3 linked regions of the Homo sapiens genome follow. The protein of the gene in region 3 interacts with the protein of the main gene of each other region in a biochemical or structural test. Each region holds a gene or a part of one and is shown on either strand. Other genes may lie near its edges.

Region 1 (7,217 bases), on a different chromosome or scaffold from region 3:
AGCTTCAGCACACCTATAGTGGCCTGGATGGGCATGTGCCAAGTGTGTAGGGTTGCATACCAGGCCTCTGGGTCAATGGAAAGCCAGAAACAGTGGGGAGAAGAGGGAAGTGCATGGGACGGTGGTGTCTGTTGGACCAGCATGGGTGGCCTAGGCTGCCCAGAACATGAAAGGTGTCCATTTCTTCATAACTCTGGCCGTGGACATGAAGGCCAATTTGGGTTACCTGATAGTTGCCCATTTTATTGACTTAAGGATTTGTTTATATATAGTTAAGATAAATAGAATATGGTAACTTCCTTTAAAGGCTGTGTGTGTGTGTGTAAGAGAGAGAGAGAGAGACAGACAGAAACAGAAGAGAGAGGAGAGAGAGATAGACATACCAATTAAGTTTTTCTTTTTCTTTTTTTTAATGATTTCTTTGCAGCTCTTGAGAAAGTCTATTTTACAAAGAGGAAAACCTGTGGTTGAAGGCTCTTTGGAAAAGAAACCCCCATTTGAAAAACCTAGCATTGAACAGGTAAAAAGATTTTAAAAGCCCTCTTTTTATTGGCTCAAGGCTGAAGAAATCTTTTAATCCTCCTTTTATATCTCTATCTACGGCTTCCCTCCTCCATACCCAGGTTAGAGATGTTTACCAGTCTGTGGAAATTGTCCTGGAGGCTTTGGATCAGAGGTGTATACCTAATTTAATACATGATCTAGCTTTTGCCTTTTAGGGTTGTTACATACTCACAGTTTACTGTGTGTTTGGGGAAGAAAAACATTAAGTAGAACATGTAGTTTGTAAGAAGAACACATGAAATGTGCTTTTTCTTGTTGTTGGTGCTTTAAAATGAAGTCTTTGTCCATTTGCTTGGCACTGTCTGAGAAAGCCTATTGAGGTGAGGGGATTTAGTAGCAATGTGAAAAACATTGTAAGTCAAGCAAAAAAAGCAAAAAAGAAATGAGATTTTGTACCCAGAAATGGACTTCCTGCTACATTATGATTCCTGGAAAGAAGCCGTTTTACTCAGGGAATCTGTTAAAATGTAAAGAGTTTTTCTGTTAGGTGTTGTCAGTATCTCTCATTAGCATCACTTTTTTAGCCTTTGATTGTTTGGCTAAACAAAAACACTCTGGACTGAATTTTTTGATGAGAATGACTACTGAAGTCATGATACCAGAATCCTTAAAAATAAATGCATTTTTATCAGTCAGTTTTCAGTAAATTTTATTTTGCCTCCAAACTCTATTAAATAAGAATTCATTGCTCTTTTATTTGAAATTAGATGAGATGGAAATATTCTGTAGAAAGATTAAATTAACAGTTTTTTTAAAAGCCCATAATTTTGAATGATATATATATTTTGGTAAGCTTATTGACTTCAAACAAATGATAGTAAAGAGTTTAAATTTTAGTTGTTTAGTTCAGTGGTAGGCATGATAGCAGGTTTTTGATTAGCATTTTTGTAATGTAAAAACAATATTTATCTAAGAACTGCATTATATGTGGGCTACTCTGCTGATAGTAAAGCAATAATTATTCTGCACAACAGTCATATTTTCTTGTTTCAGGGGTTTTGACCTTTTCAGTCCATGGTTTTGATTTTCTCCTTAATGCTTCAGGATTTCAGCAGGCGTAGAATCACAACTCACAGCCTCTCTGTCTTGTCACTTTTCATCCACCGTGATCTGAGGCAAGATTCCCTCTGGGGATTGCTATTTTCTTTTAGGGAAAAGGAAGAGATTTTTGTGAATAGAGAAATGTCTGTTATTTTGCTAATAACCACCAATCATGCTGGCTGTGTGGGTGTTCAGAATTAGTATGATTGCATAGCTGCATGAAGAAATTGCCTTCCCTCTTTTTAAGGGTGTGAATAACTTTGTGCAGTACAAATTTAGTCACCTGCCAGCAAAAGAAAGGCAAACAATAGTTGAGTTGGCAAAAATGTTCCTAAACCGCATCAACTATTGGCATCTGGAGGCACCATCTCAACGAAGACTGCGATCTCCCAATGATGATATTTCTGGATACAAAGAGAACTACACAAGGTAATCAGATGCAAGTTCTTTTCCTTTGGCCCCATAAAGCCTGTTACAGACCTAAAATTGTACTTGACTCTATAAGTATAGGGCTGCCTAGTTATCATTATGACTCCATCAATTCAGAGATAATGTCTTTATAATTTAACTTGCAAACTCCTGCTTTTCATTGCTATCATAATATGTTGAGGTGTGAGGGATGTAAATCATCTATACCCAGTGTGATAGCCACTAGCTATATGAGCACTTGAAAATGTGGCTAGTTTGAATTGAGATTTCTATGATTGTACCAAAAAGGAGTTTAAAATTGCTCATTAATACTTTTAAAATATTGATTACATGTAGAAATGATAGTACATTGGATACATTGGATTAAATAAAATATATTGAAGTTAATTTTACCTGTTTTTACCATTCCAGTGTGGCTACTAGAAAATTTAAAATCCATATGTGGCTTGTGTTATTTATCTATTGAATATAGTTGACTAGATAGCTACACTATAACTCTGAAATTAATTAGAGCCCTCACTCAAAAAATGCAATGACCATATAATGAAGTTAAAGAATTTTTTTTAGGCTGGGCATGGTGGCTCACACCTGTAATCCTAGCACTTTGGGAGTCTAAAGTGGGTAGATCACTTGGGTCAGGAGTTCAAGACCAGCCTGGCCAATATGGTGAAACCCCATCTCTACTAAAAATACAAAAATTAACTGGGCATGGTGTCACGTGACTGTAATCCTGGCTACTTGGGAGGCTGAGGCAGGAGAATCACTTGAACCCTGGAGGCAGAGTTTGCAGTGAACTGAGATCGTGCACTCTGGGCAACAGAGCAAGACTCTGTCTCAAAAAAAAAATTTTTTTTAAAGGAAAGATTAGCTTAGTTCCAGAACTGTGATGGAACTGACATCATTATACATATTATCTTCCAGGTTTTGTCCTTTTAAATAACATTTTACATTAGTTATAATGAAAGAAAATGTAGAATTTTGTAGCCTTTATGTCTCTTCACTTAATATCATATCAAACATTTCACAGGTTACATTATAGTCCATTGAGTTGATTTACCACAATTTACCTAACCATTTCTCTATTGCTGGACATTCAAACTCTGCAGATAGTCTTGGATTGAACATATATTTTCTTCTAAAGTGGAAATTTATTTTTATTGCTTATTACTTGCAGAATAACAGAATTGGTTTTACAAATCTTAAACTTGTACCATACAAAATATAAGGACCTACATTTATTTTCATCTGAAGGACTGTGACTTGGGTCATCCATTCTTTTCAACTTTTTTATAACTTTTCTATAACTTTTCTCTGTTTATATTTCAGAGGCACATCAAGCTTGCATTAGGGAGCTTTAGTGCCTACTTTTTTCCTGATTTAAAGTGGGCAGTAGTATCTTTTGATAGCCTGTCAAGACCACTTGTGCCCAGGTTATTTTCTGTAACAGCAGATAACATGGAAGAATTGTATAATTTAAAATAAGCTTTCCTCTCTGACATTGACCTAGTTTCATGTGTAACACACCCTTTTCCTCTCTTTCTCTTCACTTTTGCAAATATATGCAATTTCAGTTATAAAGTATTTTCTCCTTAATAATTGATATTTATAGGAATTGCAGATTTCTTCAAAATAAGTTTTTAAATTATATCTTCATTTCCGTATCTTTCATTTTAGGATTTTACATTAACAATAGTTCTGTATTATTGAAACTCTGCTATATTATTGAAACTCTTGTTTATAATAAGAGTTGAGACGATAAGTCTCTCAAAAATATGTATTTTTTAATCCCGTCTGTGAACAATTGACAAAGCTGAATATTTGTCAAAGCCAGGGCCCTGAATGCATTTGCGACTTTTAGCAGAGAAAATAATCGTTTCATCAAGAAAAAGGAGAATTAATTGTGAAGCAGCTTGGGAGACATTAGTATATTTTGTTTTATTTTTATTTTTATTTTTTTTAGAGATGGTGTCTTATTCTGTATCCTGGGCTGGAGCGCAGTGGCATGATCATAGCTCACTGTAGCCTCAACCTCCTAGACTCAAGCAATTCATCTATCTCAGCCTCCTTAGTAGCTGGGACTACAGGCACATGCCACCATGCCTGGCTATTTGTTTATTTTTTATAGAGATGGGGTCTCGCTGTGTTGCCCAGGCTGGTCTCAAACTCCTGACCTCAAGCAATCCTCCCACCTTGGCCTCCCAAAGTGCTGAGATTACATGTGTGAGTCACTGTGCCCAGCTATGATATTTTAGAAAACAGAAGAAAAATGCAAGGCAGCCTTTGAGAATTACTAAGAAATTGGTGGCACTTATGAATACTTAAGAAGTAGTAAAAATGGAAATTGGTTTGGATGAGTGCTGGGTTTGAATGGTGTGGGTCCATCTCTCCCTTTTTACATGAGCTTTAGACCAGTCTCTGGTCTAAAGAGACTTTTGGTTTCTTTCTCTGTCCAAGTGTCATGACTTTTGTGAGTATTCCATGGGTGGTTTGTATGTAGTTTCTGACACACAGAGCAGGTGCTGGGAAGATGCTCATCATCATTTTCCTCCCATGCACATTGTTCTCTAAAACTCAGTCACTGCCAATGTGGAGCTTATTAAGCTAAAGCCTTAAATGTATAATTGAGTGAGTGTGTAATTATTTGAATATCGCTTTAGAAATTAAGATAGCAGGGAATAGAAAAACAGCAAAAGAGTCCTTTATAGCCCAGCCTCCTGAGCCAACAGCTGAAGGCAAAAAGTGGAGTCAGACAATGGGAAAGAGAAACTTGCTGAGAGAAACAGAAATGAATATGCCCTAATGAGTTCTGAAACGTGCTGATTTCTAGGTGAAATGTAGACCAATAGCCCCTATTAATAATAAATAAGGAAATGAAGGTAGATGACACCAACCTCCCCCACGTCCCCACCATCACGTCATGTTGATGAGGAAAGGGAAGTAGAGAGGAACAACCTGTGAAAATTAGGAGAATCAATATTCGGAGTAAAACCTCACTGCCATGACCACATGGGGAATTAAAAAAACCACATACCACCACAGCATGATGTCTCACTGATACTGATCTTCTCAAAAATGGGTAATATTACTGGCTGCAGGCACCAGCAGGCTTTATCTTGATGTTGCTGTAAGAGAACCTCAGGACCTATAACGCTGGTTCAGCTTATAACTTACAGCAGTTACTGTAAATATTAGAACAAAGATGTGCCGAAAATGTTTGCAGTATATCAGTCTGAAAATGAAGTTAAACAGGATTCTTTGTGGAAAAGACTGGACTTAGAAAATGATTGTGTTCATTACAGAGCTAACTTGTAAATATTTATTCCATAAAAATTAAAAGCAGACTGAACAGTAGTACTGCTTAAATTACTTCTCTGTTCTGAAGAAAAGAAAAATATAAGTATTCTTTTTTTGTTGTTTTTTTGTTTTTTTTTTTTTTGAGATGGAGTCTCACTCTGTTGTCCAGGCTGGAGTGCAGTGGCGCGACTCAGCTCACTGCAACCTCCACCTCCTGAGTTCAGGCGATTTTCCTGCCTTAGCCTCCCAAGTAGCTAGGATTACAAGTGCGTGCCACCATGCCTGGCTAATTTTTGTATTTTTAGTAAAGATGGGGTTTCACCATGTTGGCCAGGCTAGTCTCGAACTCCTGACCTCAGGTGATCTGCCTACCTCGTCCTCCTAAAGTGCTGGGATTAAAGGCGTGAGCCACCTTGCTCAACCTAAATATTGTTACATAAGTGTATGTTAACTGTACCTTATATATACTCCCAGGAGCAATTGTGGTTATAGAAAAAAATGTGGGCAAATATTTTGAAGTTCCTGAATTTCATGATAGTACACTATTTAATTCCATGAAGAAATAACCTAAAAAGAAAGTGTCACAGGATTATGACTTCTTAAAATACAACTGTCCAACAGTCTGCTGAAGGAAAGTGCAAGTAATTAGTCTTAGATTTTGAATTGTGTAGAACTTTTGAAAGTTAAAGCTTACCCCCACACTGGGGAGATGTTTCATAAGAATACAGAGTGGCTGTGTGCAGTAGCTGATGCCTGTAATCCCAGCAACTTTGGGAGGCTGAGGCGAGAGGATCGCTTGAGCCCAGGAGTTTGAGCCCAGCCTGGGCAACAGAATGAGACTTCATCTCTACAAAAATAAAAATAAAAAACTAGCTGGGTGTGGTGGCATGTGTCTGTGGTGGCATGAGCCTGTGGTCCCAGCGACTCTGGAGGTTGAGGTGGGAGGATTGCTTGAGCCCGGGAGGTCAAGGCTGCTTGGAGCTGTCCATGATCCTACCACTGCACTCCGGCCTGGGTGACAGAGCACGACCCTGTCTGAAAAAAAAAAAAAAAAAAGAAGAAGAAGAAGAAAAAGAATACATAGCAAGTTAGCTAGAACTAACTTGTTTTTGGGAAACAGTTTTATTTAGCCATTCTTCTATGATGTACAGCCTATTGCCATGTATACTGAGCATTCATTATTAGACATGTAAGTCTAGAACAGATTTATCAGGAAGCATGGAAAGAACACTAGGAAACAGGAGATCTGACTTCTAGTCTGGACTTTAATTAAGTAACTGGGCCTCAGTCCCTGTGAACTAGGGCAGATCAGTTTATTCCTGAAAACCACAGGATTTTCAGTTCAGCAAGTCAGTAGAATGACATGGTCTTCTGTGTTCACATTTTTAATTTCTGTTCACAGAAGTTACAAATCATCATCATGATGTGAAAAATCTGGGAGTTATTTGAACAGTAAGAAAATAGCATGCAAATACCATCTTTATTAGACATACAAAAATGAACGAACTATCATTTTGCTTCTTTTTAGTAGACCCGAAATCAGTCATGTAGGTAAAATCTTTTCTACAGTTACTTCTTTGGAGGAATACATGTGCTCATGCACGTCCGTTTCCTTCTTTCTGTCTCACTGTGTGCAATAATAATATCAATCAATTTATTAAAACAACACCAGAAGTACACACACACACACACACACACACACATTCTGTCTCTCTCACACACACACACATTGACTCAGCCTCATTGTCTTAATCTACAGTGAATTTAACAGAGTACAAAATAAGATTAATCTTGGAAGTTAAGAAAAAGCTGAAAAGTATAAATTGAGGTCTATAAAATGACTTTGAGGAAATGAATGAAAGCCCATTATTTGAACATTTTTACTAGCT
Region 2 (7,217 bases), on a different chromosome or scaffold from region 3:
GCAGGAGGCCAGCAGCAAGGCCTCCGCGTGCTCCCGCCGCGTGGGCCGCGGCTCCAGCTCCGCCACCGCGCCTGCGCACACGAGGATGTGTCAGGGATGGGTCTCAAGCTGGCCACGCCCCCGCGGGAGCCCTGCCCACACACAAGCCACGGCACCAGCCGCCTGTACCTGGCACACAGGTACCTGGCGGGGGCCTGGCGGGTTCCCCTCTCCCCACCCTAGTCTCAGCCCACACACAAAGTCCACAGACTGAGTCACGCACGTGCAGTCATGTATCCCACAAATGACAGTCACCCCACTGATTCCTTGTGAAAGGAATTGTCATCAGGTAACCATCAAGAAGATGCTTGGTCTTTTTTTTTTTTTGAGACAGGGACTCTCCCTGTCACTCAGGCTCACTGCGGCCTCCAACTCCTGGGCTCAAGCTGTCCTCCCAACTGAGCCTCCCAAAGTGCTAGGTGTGAGCCACTGCGCCAGGCCTGTCTGTCCCGTCTGACACACACACAGCCTCCCTTGGTATCACATCCCATGTGCGCCCTTCCCTGCTGAGCAGACAGCACATCCCTGGTCAGCAGCTGCCCCCTCACCTCCTTTGCCACCGGGGCCTGCCCGCCGCCTCAGACTGCGGTCGAGGAGCTGGTGTGTCCGTGTGGGGCTGGCCCCCGCCATCAGCCGGGCCGTGGCCTCATGTAGGAACACCTGGGGGCCAGGAGAGTGGAGGCTCAGGGCTCTCCATCTCCACCACTGCCTGACTCCCCGTCTTGAGGACAGGGCCATCGGGCACTCACCCTCCGCATGGCGGGCCGGAAGCTCTGTGCCAGCCGCCTCAGGCTGCTCAGGTCCCGTTGGAAGCCACGCAGCTCAAGGGCGGAAGCCTGGGGCCTGCTGCTGGTGCCCTGGGCTGCTGGGGCCGGGGCCGGGGGCTGCTGCTGCCGCCACAGGCTGGTGCGCACCACAAGAAGCAGGTCACACAGGAACAGCTGCACGGCCTGGGGGTGGCAGGCAGGGCAGGGGTCACCAGGGCTCCAGCTCTGGGAGGGGCAGGATGGGGGCCCGTGGTGCCAGGGGCCGGCTCCGGGCTGCACTGCCGAGGCACTGCACCCGCCTCACACACGTGCAATGCAACAGCAATGCACCGCGGGGCCGCCCGCCTCTCTCGGCCCCCACACCCGCCACCGGCCCGGGAGCAGCTGTCCAGCCCTCCTGATGCAGGGCCTCCAAAGGGATCCTACCACACCATCCACCCCCCTCCTCCCAGGGATGGGGAAACTGAGGCCAGATAGGGGCAACCCCTCTCCTCTGGACAGAAGCCTTAGCCAAAAAGCAGGGTCTGCTGGACCCCCTATCCTGTGCTGCTTGGGCTAACCCCATGGTCTTCTGCAGCCCCTGGGGGCTGGGGAGAGGAACCAGGGAATGGAAAGCTGAATCCCCCAGCCCTGCCAGGCCCCTGACCCCACCCCTCACCTTGTCAATGGAGCTGCTGGCTGGTGTGGTAGCCAGGCTGTCCTGCAGGTACCCACTGGCCTTCTCACAGATGGTCAGGCTGGCTGGACCAGACTCTGCCTTGGCACAGCCCAGCAGGGCCCGGGCAGCCTTGAAGGAGTGCAGAGCTGCCCTGGGCAGGGGTCTCCTGTTGGGACCAGGGCAGAAGAGTGCCAGTCAGACCAGTCCACAAGCCCTGGCTGAGTGCCCCCCACTTCCCTGGCTCGAGTTCCCTGAGGAAAAAAGGTGGTGACTCCTCCTGCACAGAACAAAGGCTGAGTGAGGCACAGTGCCCAGGGGATGAGGAAGGCTGAGCCCGGGACCAGGCAGGAGGAACCTGCCGTGCACTCACTCAGACTCCTGCAGCACCCGGGGCAGGTGCTCCACCAGCGGGCACAGCCGCTCAGCCGCCTCCTCATCCCGCCGCAGCCAGTGGATCACCACAGCTGTCAGAGAGGCCCACCACTTGGCCACCGGGTCTACGCCTGCAGAAGAGGGAGGGTCCCCTGAACCCTCAGTCACGCTGCACGGGGGAGCTGAGAAGGGAGCCAGGACAGGGGCCGGGGACTCACCGGTGGTGGTGGCCATGCTGGAACTGATGGAGAAGCTGTAGGCAGGAGCCCCCGCAGCATCAGAACAGCTGTTCAGCAGCTGCAGGTACCCGAGGGCATCCGAGAATTCCCTGTGGAAGGAGAGAGCTGGCTGTCGGAACAGATGGCAGGGGTCCTAGGAGGGTGCTCCCCACCTGCCCTCCAGAGTACAGCCTGGCCCCTGGCTCTGCAAAGTGCCACTGTCTCCTCCCACAGGCTGGTGGGGAGAGGAAACTCAGAGAGGAATGAAGCGTGCATGGCACGCACGGTAGCCCAGCTCTGGGCTCTCTCCACAGGGTTGAGGCCAGAGCTATTCTCAGAATCCCGCCGGAGGGGCCTTGCCTGGAGGAGGGCACAACGACACTTACTTGTCCCCATCAGCTGACCCAGGGCTGGGGTTGGGCTGGGTCACACAGTTCAGTGCTCGCTCTAAGAGATGTTCCCGGAATAGCTGAGTCACCTGGGCCAGGGGGTCCACTGTGGAGAGGAGGAGGTGAGTGGGGTGGGGAGCAGGGCCCCACCCTCCTCTCCAAGCTAAGGGCTTTTTCCTGGGTGGGCTGGGGCCACACCTAGGGCCACTGGGAAGTGCCGGCATGCCCCTGGGTGCAGCCCCTGCCAAGGACAGGGGAAAGCGGGTGGACATAACTATCACCAGCACCAGCCTTGGCCAGGAGACAACACTGAGGCCTGCCCTACACTGCTTCCAAAGGAAAACCGACTTGAGAAGATGCCATTGTTGGCTCCGCTTCCTTACTCCACAGCGGCACTGCCTGGGGTCACTTCTCCAATTAGCCATCTGCCCATCAATCCCTGCATGTGCTTCTGAAAGCCCCAATGGGAACGAGAGGCACCCAGGCCTTTCCCTTCCTGCAACCCCCACAGCAACAACCCATGGCAGGGAGAAGGACTGGGGTGGCCAGAGACAGCCAGAGATTCAGGCGACAAGGGACAGGACAGGAATGAGGATGAGGGACAGGAGAGGGGACAGGGAAGGGGTAAGAGAGCACCTGGGTTCCCGGCCAAGCTGTACAGGCTCTCCCATGGGGTACTGAGCACGGACCAGTCCCCATCCACGAAGAAACGGTGGCCCACGGGGTGGCAGAGCCACTGCATGGCAGGAGGCACTGAGCCACTCTGTGCCAGGCAGGCCTGGCGGGCACTGCTCAGGAAGAAGCGCTGTAGGGGAGGGTACTGGGCTGTCACAGTGGACACAGCCTGGGGCCAGACCCCGGGCCGAGTCCCAGCTTGGCCTGGAGTCCCCCTGGTAACCACTGCCACATCCCGTGTAGCTCTTACCCAGGGAGCCTCTGGAGAGAGCTGCAGGGATAAGCCCCCAGCCCCCCAACCCACTCACTGTCAGAAAATGCAAGGCCCGTGGGAGACTGGTCTTCACTCTCAATGCAGCCGCCACATAGATCTCGGCCAGCGTCGCCACAGACACGGCATCCCCTGCACACTCTGCCAGGTTCAGGGCACTCAGCGCCAGGTTGGTGGCAGTGAGGTGCCCGCCTGTGTGCTTCCCTGGAAGGCAAGCAGGCATGAGGCTGTGGGTGGAGCACAGGCAGCAGGGAGCACCTCGGAGCCCGCCCCACGCTCAGTCCTACCCATGGTGTGCAGCTGGTGCAGCTTATGGTAGACCAGGGCTGCGTCTCGGGCGCTGGCGCTAGCATCCACTCGCAGAGCACAGTCCTGCTGCAGGCCCCCTGCCCGGCCTGCCAGCCAGCGGCCCACCCAGAGACGCTGCAGCAGGTGACGGATGAGGTTCCAGAGGAGGCTACAAGCCAGGTCCAGGTGGGAGGTGGGCAGGGGCCGGCCCAGTGCCCGCAGGGCCAGCCACAGCTGCTGGGCAGCCTGGGCAAAGTCTCCCTGTGGATGAGGGTTTTCCAGGTGAGAAAAGTGAGGTCAGAGCAGCTGCCCCAAAGCTCAGAAGAGCCGTCCACAGCAGGCTCTGGAGGGGTGGTGGGGGTCTGCGGATGCGTGGCTAGGCACAGGGAGGACGGGACAGATTCATGGTGTGCACAGGGAGCAGGAACAAGGGTTGACACCCAGCACCTTCACAGCCTGGGGTCCCTGCCCTGCCCACTCTGCCGGGGCCAGCCCCTTACCCGGGCCAGGTCCAGGTCAGCCTGCTTGCGATGCCTCCAGAAGTACACGGCGGGGCCTGAGTGGGGCCGTGTGACTGGCTCACCGTAGACAAAGAGAAGCACCAAGGAGACGAGCACCAACAGCCCATTGAGCAGCCAGACCACTGGGGGCAGCAGCCACTGGGCCCAGCCAGGGCCATCTATGGACAGAGGGAAAGCTGGGGACACAGCTCCCAGGAAATCCAGAGCCCCAAGTTCACAAGCCTGGGGGCTCACCCCGAGTGTCCCTCCCAAAGATGCCCAGGCTGGCCGGTCCCACCTCTGCTCTCGGTGCCCAGCACGTTGCGCCCAGGGCTATGGTAGACGCTGGTGGTATCTGAGGGGCTGGGAAGCCCCCGGGCCCCCAGCAAGGAGGCCAAGGGGTTGCAGGACAGGCAGAGGAAGACGAGCGTGCACAGGGCCAGGCGGGAGCGGTCCAGCATGCCCCGGCTGTGCAGAGACGGCCGCTGCTCTGGCTTTGCCTGGTGGGGTTGGGCAGGGTGGTGAGGGCAGAATCGGAGGGACCCCAGAGAGCATGGGGCTGGGAAGGGGGGGGTCAGGATTCTGCCCACCTTACTGTGGGACCCCACGTGGCTCCAGGCCTCAGTTATTCTGTCTATGAAATGGGAGGTAGGATCTGTTAGGGTCTTCCCGGCCCTGTCATGAGGCTCAGAGGATATGGCTGGGAGTGGGGAAGGGGGCACCGTGGCAGGGCCCAACCTTGCTGTCCTCAAAGACTGGGCTGTCAGGCTCCGAGTCACTGCCACTGCCACCGCTGCCACTGCCCCTGCTGCCAAGGGACAAGGGGCTGCTCTGGAAAGGTGAGCCAGCATCCGAGGGGGGTGGGGTCAGTGTGTCCTCCACCTCAGTCTTCACGCCCTCCATGAGCACGTCTGTGTTCCCTCCACTGCCACAGGCCGACACCAGATCCTTCAGAGATTCTGTGGGCCGAAAGGAACAGAGCCAGGAGTAAAGGCTGGATATGTGACCCCAAATCAGAGCCTAGGCCCTTGGAGGCCTAGGGACTACTGTAGCTCCTAAAGCTAGCCCAGGACGCTTTGATGGGGCTGGGTTAGGGCCAAAGGGAGGCACCAGGTCTCTTTCAGGACCAGAGGTAACCAAGGGACTAGAGCTGAATGCAGGGCTACAGCCAAGGGTGAGGTGGGCAGGGCAGAGGGTGGGCCAGAACCAAGGGTGGGGTGGGGCTAGGGATGGGGTGGGGCCGGGAGGTGGAGCAAGGCTAGAGAAGAGGCCAGACTGGAGCTCAATAAAGCCAGGACTCACTGCTTTTGTGGACAGCAGTGCGCAGACTTAGGTTCTCCTGCTTGAGTTTCTGGTTGCTGTGTTGCAGAAAGCGAATGTAGTCGATGGCCTTGCGCAAGACAGCAGATTTATTCAGCTGCACGGTGTGGGAGGGAGGGGGAGCGCACAGGTGGCCTGTCAGGTCGGGGGTTGTGGGGTTGGAGAGCCCTAGCAAGGGGGTGCGGAGCTGCTTTGCAACATTACTGCCTCAGGACCTTTGCACTTGTTCCTTCTACCTGAACCGTTCCTCGCCTAGTAGCACCCACCTCCCAGGCCGGGCATAGGGTTAGAATGTAAGATGCAGACAGCAGGGTCTGGCTAGCTGCTGCTGTGCCTGCCGCCATCTCAGGGAGGCCTTCCCTGGCTACCACCAGGGGACCCTCACCATCCTCTTCCTGCTTTCTCTGCAACGAGCCAAACGTGGTGGTCTCGAGCACTTATTCATCCTGCCTACTGTCCATCTCCCCCACCAGAAGGTCGGCTCTTCTTTGAGGGACAATTTTTGTCTGTCTTGTTCATTGCTGCATCCCCAATGCCTAGCACAGCCCCACCTTTATTGAAGAGGCCTGCAAACCAGTTTAACTAAATAAACGAGGCTGGCCAGGCCTGGGGAGGCTGAATTCCAATTCCCTGCTTGTCCAGGCTCAGTCTCACTCCCTCTCTTCCTTCCAGTTGCCCCTGATCTGTTCCTTCCTAGGGACACCCCGGTCTGTGCCCCTGCAGGCCTCTCCACACCTTTGCCTCAGTGCCCACCACCAGATCCTTGAGCTCAATGATTTTGTCATTGATGGAGGAGCGGTAGCGCTTCTCAATGGCGTTGTGGGCTGTGCGCTTCTCTCCACGGCTCTGGGCAGAGGCCGGGGCCTTGCTGCCAGCTGCGAGCCGGTTGATAGGCAGCTTCTCCGCATCTACGACCAGTGGGACTGTTGCCAAGATGGTTCCGCCACTCACCAGGGTCTGCAGGGCCAGGCACATGTTACCAGGTGGGCATGTGTGTGTGTGTGTAGACCCCACTCCCTTATGCCCTGCCCACGTCACCCACCGGCAAAGGCCCTGTCTGCACAGTGGTGCCAGAGACCAGGGGACTGAGACCTGCCGCCTTCACAGTGGCTCCGTCTGTCTTCATGGCTGTCAGAAGCAGCGAGTCTGCCTTGATGAAGTGGGGCTGCAGCAGGACCTGAGGGTGGGAGAGGCTTGGCTGTAAGCTGTGTGTCTGGGCTGGGGCTGCCCCCTCCCCAACCCCTGGCCAGACCCCCTCACCGGGACCTGCTGGATCTGCGAGGTCACAGTGGTCGTTACAGGGGCTGCCGTGGGGGCAGCTGTGACTGTCAGTAGCTGCTGGGGGACCACACTCTGGACCTGGGTGTGCAAGGAGACGGGCGGGACCCCTGGCGGGGAAGCCAGTGGCAGGCCAGGCAGCGGCTGCTGGGTGTTCCCGGGAGGGCTTCCTGCAGAAATAAAGCATGGGGCTGCAGACACAGACCTCCCTCTCCCACTTTCAACCTGCTCTTCAGGTCTCTATCACCGACTGGCCTTGGATGAGTCATTGCCCCATGTGGCTTCCTATGGACAGTCCCTGCCTGGGCTCTGATGCAAATGCACTGGCTTCAAGCCAGGCCTCCAGTGCGAGGTTGCGCCTACCCCGGCAACAAGCACACCAGGACTGCTAGTAACAGGGCATCTCAAGCAGCCGAGTGGAGCCCCAGTTTCTAAAGCCTGC
Region 3 (7,375 bases):
CTTGGAGGCCGGCTTCCACCCTGGAGGTAGGACTTCTGATGTCTGCACACCTGAAGGGTGGAATAGTTTCTCTGCTTCAAGAACGAGCACTGTAGCACACTGCAGACACTCAAAGGGTTGGTCCCGTGCTCTTTTGCCTGCCTTCGGTTTCCAGGCGCTCCGAGGAAACTGGCCCCACCTACAGCGGGAGGCCCGGGTCTCCAGAGCCCCTGCGCCAATATTCTAGTCAAGAGGCTCGCGCGGGGCCAGAGCCTGAAGCGGGAGATGAACCCACCAGGAAGACATCCCAAGGCTGAGGCCCTGACAAGCCGGCCCCGCCCACGACGGCGAGCCCCTCCCCTCGGCCACCCCCCTCCTCAATTCCCCGCTACCGGTGCTGCCGAGTGGCAGGCCACCCTGACAGAGGCCGTAGAAAAATTTCCCAAACATTAAGTATCCTGCCCAGCACGGGCATCATCCCCCAAAGCGGATCTCAACCCCAGCCACGCCCCAATCGCTGCCCCCACCCGATACTCAGGATCCACCTGGAGCCGAGCTGAGCCTAGCCTGGCCCCTCCCCCAGGGCCACACCCACCCTGCAGCCGCGTCCCGAGCTGAACTCTGAGCCCACACTGACTCCCACCCCCAACCTGAGCCCCCACACCCTTAACTGACCCCGAATGCCTAGAAATGGCCCCGCTCTCACCCTCTACCCCATCACCTGCCACGTGGTTTGGAGCGGCCACAAAAGCCTCCCTGGGGAAAGTTAGTCCGAGATCTGAAAGCCTCACCTGCAGACCTTGGGCCCTTTCAGTTCCAAATGGTAAAAAAAAGGGGCCTTCAGCTCTAGGGTATCCAAGGCTGCAGCTTCTTTTTATGCCTTTTAATCACTATGTGAACTATTTTACAAATGAGAGACCACCACCCTTGGTCACAAGACAACAGTATTCAGTAGACGGGTTTTGAGCCTGCCCCCAAGGTAGAAGAGGTGAGTGTCACAGAAGAACTCACGTGAGCTCAGAGGAAGCATACAATTCTTTACACCAAAATGGGGAAGGATTGCCGTCCATTAAAATATTTTCATCTTTATGTTAAAAACGAAACAAAAAGGGGGGAGGGAACCGCCACAGATGAATCAACTACAAAGTATCGGGCCGCGCGTGGGAACTGTTGCCGCTGGGCTGGCGGGGGCGGGCGGTGATCCCCAGGCTGGAGGCTCAGCGCCCGCCCTGGTGCAGGTGCCGCCCGCCCCGCACCGGCCCAGGGCAGGTGAGAGGTGGGCAGGCGAGAGGGCAGCACGGAGGATGGGCAGCGGCCAGGGCATTCCTTTCCGGAGAGAGCCTCGAGGCCGAGGAGCCTAGGGCCGGGCGCGCCCCCGCCGGGCCGGATGGGCGGGGGCTCCCACAAAGAGCCGCAGGCGGGGAGCGGGACCCGGGACCGCCCCCCGCATCGCCAAGCGCCGCCGCTGACTTTGGTTACGACAAATTAAACCTTAGAGCGCTGGAAAAATTACAGGAAGAAGAGAGCGAAGAATGTGCCGAGTGGCGAAGGAAACCTTGTCCCTGCGTGAACTTCGCCCGCCGCGCGCCGGGGCCGGCCCCTCCCCTCCTGAGCGCGCGCCCGGGCAGCGGGGGAGGAAACGAGGAGGGACCCCGGAGAGCGTCCCCTGCCCCCGCTCCGGGCGCCCCACCGTCACGAGTGCCGCCTGCGGTCCACACCCAGGCCGCCCGCACCTGCCCGCGCCGCCTCCCGGCCGGGAGGGGTCCCCGCCCCCAGCCCAGATGACTATATCCGCCCCCGCGGCCCCACCCGAGCGCGCCCGGGGAGGGGGCGTGCCCGGCGGGGGCGCGGTCGCCTGGCGGGCGCCGGCTCCGAGAGCCAAGACCCGCCTCGCGCGACGCGCGGGGCCAGCCGCGGGTCGGAGCGGCAGGGGAAGGGGCGAGGCCCCGGGCGTTCCGGCCCGCCCGGCCCCCACCTCGCGCCCCATCGGGGACTCCGGGGGCGTGGTCGGGCAGCTCGCGCCGACCCCGTCCGCGCGATCCGGGCGCCCGCGCCGCCCCACTGACCTGTGTGAGTTCTCAGGTGCGCCTTGAGGTGCGAAGATTTCCCGTAAACTTTCTCGCAGCCCGCGTAGTGGCACTTGTGCTTCCTCTGCGGGGACTCGAGGTCGGCGCGACTTCGGCCCCGCCGGACCCTTTGTCTGAGGCCGGGCTCGCCGCTCCCCGCGGGCCCCGGCTCCCGCTCGGGCTCCAGCCCCGCCTCGGGCTCCGGCTCGCTCCACGCCGGGCTGGGGGGCGCGGCCGCCGCGCCTTCGGCGCCGGGGGAGGTGGGCTCGGGGGCGGGCGGCGGCAGGCGGCAGGGGGTCCTCGCCTTCCGGGCCGCGGCGCCCTCCCTGCGCTCCGCCGGGGCGGGCGCCGGCGCTTGCTGGTTGAGGTCCGCTAGGATCCGCGCCACCACGAAGAGCGAGGCGCTGTCCTTACCGTCGCGGCGCTCCTCGACGCGGGGCAGCGTGGGGGTGGCGGCCACGGCCGCGCCCTCGGGCCGGGACTCCGGCCCCTCCCGCGGCCCGTGCACGACCGCGCGGCTCGACATGGACACGAGGCACTCGGCGGCGAAGTGGTCCACATAGGCGGCGGCTGCCATGCTGCGGGCTGGGGCCGGCGGCGGTGCTCTTGCTGCGAGTCGTCAGCCGCGCATCCGCACCCACGGCCTCGGGAGAGCGGGCGGGGGGCGGGGGCGCGGCGCGCCCTCTCCTCGGGCTGGGCTGGGCTGGGCTGGGCGCGCAGCCGCCTGTGCCGTCACCCGCGCGGCTCCGCGTCTGCGAGGCGCCGGCCCGGCCGGGCACCGAAGAGTGAGCGCATGGGGCGCGCGGGCGACTGGGGTCCCCGCGCGGCGTCAGGGGCGGCCGGTTCTAAGGATGCCGAGCGGCAACGTTAGGGACCACCTCGCCAAGTCGCGGCCGCAGCTTCGCCGCGCATTGTGGCAGGCGGGACAGCTGCCGTGCGCGCCGCGGCTCCGTGTGGGCGGCCCGGCCCCGGGGGTGGGCGGGGCCGGGGCCACATCTGGACCCGACGTCAGCCCCCAGCCACATCCTGGCGGCGCAGGTTACAGGCGGCGGCGGCTGCGGGGAGCTGCGCGCGCGGAGGGGGCGGGGACCCCAGAGCGCGCACCGGCGGAACGGAGCGGTCGCGTGCCCGCGCCTGGGCAAGGGGGCGTGACCGAGGGCCGGGACAGACGCCATTGGTCCGTGAGTGCACGGCCAGGCCAATCCGAGCCGTTAGAGGGGCGTGCCCGGTCCCGGGCCCTGCGCGCGCCAGTGGGCGTGTCCCCTGGGCCGGTGGGAGGAGGGGCGGAAACTGGAGCGGGGCGCGCTGACGCATGACGTCCGGGGGCGGCGGGCCGGGTAGTCGCGGCGCGGAGCGGCTGCTTGTACCCCCCGCGGCGGGGACACAGCGAGCACTTCTCTGCCGGAGCTTTTATGTGGTGACAGCCTTGGCCCCCGGCATGGAGGGGAGCGGTTTCTGGAGGGCGCCATTTGTTCCTCCCGCGATGGGCGCCGGCGGGGAGGCGTGTCTGCCCGGCCGGGCGCGGGGCTGCCTAGGGGCGGAACGCACTCGCGCCGCGCCCTCCGCCGCCGGCTTGCCGGGTGGCCGCGCCTAGAGCCTCAGGCCGCTCGCCCTCCCCACGCCCCTGCCTTGCAGAGCTCCGGGAGTCCGGGCGGGGCAGCTCCCGCGGGAGGGACAGACTCGGGCTCGTTCCTGGGGTCCGGGGTGCGGCCGCGCTGCCCTTCAGCTCGGGTCAGCCCGAGCAGGACTGGCCTCGGCTGGCGGTGAGCCTGGCAGCCCGGGTGGCGCGCCCACCGCGGCCTGTGCCTCCAGAAGCGAACTACGTGCCAGGGCGGCCGGCGCCGCTGCTGAGGGAACGCGGGGCCCCTTCCTCCCCATCCCGCCGCAGGCCCGCTGCCAACTCTTCTAGGCTGCCCCTCTCCCACCGCGGTCGGGGGGGCTTCAAACGCCACCAGCTGCGAGGACCCCGCCCACCGCGCCCCACCCGCCCGCTGTCTGGGCCTCCCGGAGGAAATGCTCGGCTGCGCCCAGCCCGCGCCTCCCAGCCCGGGCTGGGCCACCTTGCCCTTGACTCTCACGGTAACCCCTACCCCAGCCCGCGGCCCCAGCCATTCTCCAGGCCTGGGCCGTCCTCGGAGACGCCGGTGAATAACTTCCCACCGCCGCGGAACCGGGCTCAGCAAACCCCCTACTGCCTCGCCCCGTTGCATTGTGCTTAATGGACGTTCGAAGGAGTCAGCCACCCTTGCTGTGTTCTGAGAGGAGCCTGGAGAATGAAGGAGCCCGGGCACTCACCCTCAGTGGACCCTCGCAGTGGGAGGGGGGTGTCATTCTTCTCTCAGAATTAAGGTTAATAGCCGAGTTCGAGTTCTCACCAAATTAATTTGGGGTTGGAGCTCAGTAAGACTGGTTTTCAGGTAACCGACGAGGGACCGAAACGGCCATTCTGGGTTGCGTGTTACGGTGAACAGCAAACTGCATGGATGTTTGAGCACCCTCAGTATCTGTAACTAAAACCCTGAAATGCGGTCTCGCTGATTGAGTTGCTACCCTCTGGGGAGACTAAAGGTGCTGGACTGGGTCTGGTCCCTTTAGGAGGGTCTGTGCTTGGTAGAAAGTAATCGTGTTTCTTCCAGGCAGATTGTGTTGATGACATTTAATAAGAGACGTGTGTCCTGACCAAGTAATGATTCGGAATGTTCCTCTATTCCCACCACATGTCACAATTAGTCACTTCTTAAGGAAGGAGTGGTCCTACACCAGCTTATCAGCCACCCATACCCTCCTGGCCCCTTTCCAGCCAGCAGAATTCTCCCCAATCTTCAAGGTGCCACGTCTCCCCACTGGGTCACCCCAGCCGGCATACACAATGGTAGGCCGTCTAGAGTCTGCACTATTCTAGTATTAGGCTACTACAGCCATGAACAAAACAGGCCTGCCTTGGGTGAGGGGATGCCCTACGTGGTCAAGGGTCCTCTGCATTGATGCACCCCCCTAAGAGTTTTCCAAGAATGTGGGTCCCAAAGAATTTTGACTGTGCTCTGTGGCATTCTGTATAGAAAACTGAGCTCCTTGGCTGGTTTCTCAAAAATCCACTCATTTGATGATTGTCGTGGTGTTCACTGACTTTATCCCAAACCTACATGGAAGGGTCTTCCGGACAGACAGCTCTTCCCCAAAGAAAATCTCCTCTTAGCTAAGAGTCCATGTTTTCTTTTCTAAGTAAGATTTTGACAGAGATGGCATATGTATATGTGAGGGCTGGGTCGTCTCGTTTCAAATGGAAGCAACAGAAAAGCAGAGCAGGTGTGTCTGGGGCGTATAGAGACTGAAGGCTGAAAGGGTGGTTGAGTTTCTGGGTAAAGTTGGTGGATGGTTAGTATGTATTGACTTTAACTTCCTTCTGGAGCATTTGTTAGAAGGCAGAAATCCACAAAGACAGGGAGAACAAGAGAGGAAGTAACAGCAACGCAGTTCTTGAAGCTAAAATACTTAGCAGATCCAAGAAAATGAAACCCTGAGATAGTAGCTAGGAAGGAAAGCTAAGAACATACTCCATGGAATCCCCCAGAAGGTTCACTAATGGGTGGCACTACGTACCTCTGAATGTGAGAGTAAACGGGGGTGAAAATAAGATTGGCAGAACGTCAGCTTGAGGAGCACTCAGATGCCCATATCTGCACCCCAATTTCATGCAGCCTGACAACTGCCCCTTCCTTGTTCTGACGAAAGGCTGGATATTTATGACCTGAAAAAACTAAAAGGCAGCGTCTTGGGTAGGTGGACACCAGGCACAATTAAGGACAGAGGTACGGTAATAGGATCAGGGGATTAAATACACACATGGATACTGGATGCTGAGACCCACAAACCCCTTTTTGGGATTTCAGAATGCAAGCAGCCAGGAGACTAGAAGGGTCTTTCCTGGGGTAGCCAACCATGCCAAGGGGAAACACCCAGACATTCTAACATTTGTGGCTGCCCAATTAAACAGCCAGCTCACCCTATAGGGAAGGCCACAGTTAACACTGCCACTCATGTGCACAGAAGTTCTCATCAGCCTCTCAGTCCCTCCCAGGCCAAGGACAAGCAGGGAGCCAGAGCTGACCGGCATCTCAGGAAACCCTGTGTCATGAAATACAAAGCCACAATAGAGTTTTTAAAAAGCAAGTTGGAAGAAACAGACTATGCAGAAAGAAAGAAACATCAACAAAACCATCAATAATGTCATTAAATTTTAAAAGACATACAACCTGTGAAGGGAGAACATATATAAAGAAACATTCAGGGGAAAAAAAGTGTTCTTGAGATGTTTACAAGGTAACAGAAATGTAAAAGTAAAAAACCTCCTTGAAAGTAGAACCAAAATTTTTTTTAAAAAATGGAAAGTAGAGAAAAGCTAAATTAGTGGACCAACCAAAAAAATTATTGATCAATGAGTAGGGACCCAAACAGGTGATCAGAGAAAACACAAGAGAGAAAATCGTCAATGAATTATTAATCCAAGAGAGGCCTTCACGACATATGCTGAAAGGGAGAGAGCCCAACACAGTGGGAAAGAATAGCTCTACGCCAAGGCATATCATTGGTGAGTTTCAGAATGCAGGGGACAAAAGTGTCCTAACATTAAAACAGGTCACCTACGGATAGTCGGGTCAGAATGACTGTGGGCCTCTCCACAACAACCAGTTGAAGTTAGAAGGAAGGGAACAAAGCCATGGGAAATAAATGTAAAGGAAAATTATTTTCCAGCCTTCACCCAGCCAAACTATAAACCAAGTATTTTTCAGACGCATGAGGTTTCAAAAAATTTATCCCCCATGCATCCTTTCTCATAGTAGGAAGCCACCAGAGATTATACTTCATCAAAACAAAGATGTAAACCAAGAAAGCAGGAGACGTGATCCACAAAGCAGGGAAGTCATTGCAGGATGGAAGGGAAAGTAAGTCCCAGGTGATAGCTGCCCAGCCAGGTGCAGAGTGTCAGCAGCCCAGGCTGGAGCAGATCGGCAGCTCCAGGAACACGTCTTCAAGAGGTAGAATGAACAGAGTCCCTGTATCAGTCAGGAGAGGCTGGGCCACACTGCAAAGCTCAAAGGTTTATTTCTGGCCATGCTGCGTGTCCATAGGGAGGCACCTGGGGACAGCAGGTTGATGGAGCAGCCTCTGTCTAGAATGTGCTGGTTGCCGCACAGAAGACAAGGGATAGCATGGACCCAAGGGTGTTAACTATCCCTTCTTTCCCACACACGAAATACATTTTACCCCTCCCTGGGTGGGCCTGACCCATCTCACATGCCTTTTTAGTCTGAGTCTAGAGCCCAGAGACA

Evidence for each region.
Region 1: of the proteins of KLF13 (region 3) and KAT2B, one has a biochemical effect on the other in vitro, tested with the Homo sapiens proteins (2 studies listed by BioGRID, with this or other methods).
Region 2: the proteins of KLF13 (region 3) and SREBF1 form a complex in vitro, tested with the Homo sapiens proteins (one study listed by BioGRID).

The regions. Positions count from the first base shown.
Region 1 is NC_000003.12:20,099,435-20,106,651, forward strand, and holds part of KAT2B (histone acetyltransferase KAT2B), read left to right. Parts: intron 1-427; coding exon 428-520; intron 521-1,852; coding exon 1,853-2,034; intron 2,035-7,217. UniProt on the Homo sapiens protein: Functions as a histone acetyltransferase (HAT) to promote transcriptional activation. Has significant histone acetyltransferase activity with core histones (H3 and H4), and also with nucleosome core particles.
Region 2 is NC_000017.11:17,812,781-17,819,997, forward strand, and holds part of SREBF1 (sterol regulatory element-binding protein 1), read right to left. Parts: intron 6,946-7,217; coding exon 6,758-6,945; intron 6,675-6,757; coding exon 6,540-6,674; intron 6,455-6,539; coding exon 6,233-6,454; intron 5,595-6,232; coding exon 5,480-5,594; intron 5,137-5,479; coding exon 4,916-5,136; intron 4,812-4,915; coding exon of another isoform or gene 4,768-4,811; intron 4,678-4,767; coding exon 4,476-4,677; intron 4,357-4,475; coding exon 4,178-4,356; intron 3,939-4,177; coding exon 3,677-3,938; intron 3,594-3,676; coding exon 3,427-3,593; intron 3,249-3,426; coding exon 3,080-3,248; intron 2,550-3,079; coding exon 2,441-2,549; intron 2,165-2,440; coding exon 2,055-2,164; coding exon of another isoform or gene 1,968-2,054; coding exon 1,835-1,967; intron 1,631-1,834; coding exon 1,465-1,630; intron 1,152-1,464; exon of another isoform or gene 1,056-1,151; intron 990-1,055; coding exon 789-989; intron 766-788; exon of another isoform or gene 700-765; coding exon 588-699; intron 72-587; coding exon 1-71.
Region 3 is NC_000015.10:31,322,460-31,329,834, reverse strand, and holds the start of KLF13 (Krueppel-like factor 13), read right to left. Parts: upstream 3,001-7,375; 5' UTR 2,623-3,000; coding exon 2,046-2,622; intron 1-2,045. UniProt on the Homo sapiens protein: Transcription factor that activates expression from GC-rich minimal promoter regions, including genes in the cells of the erythroid lineage. Represses transcription by binding to the BTE site, a GC-rich DNA element, in competition with the activator SP1.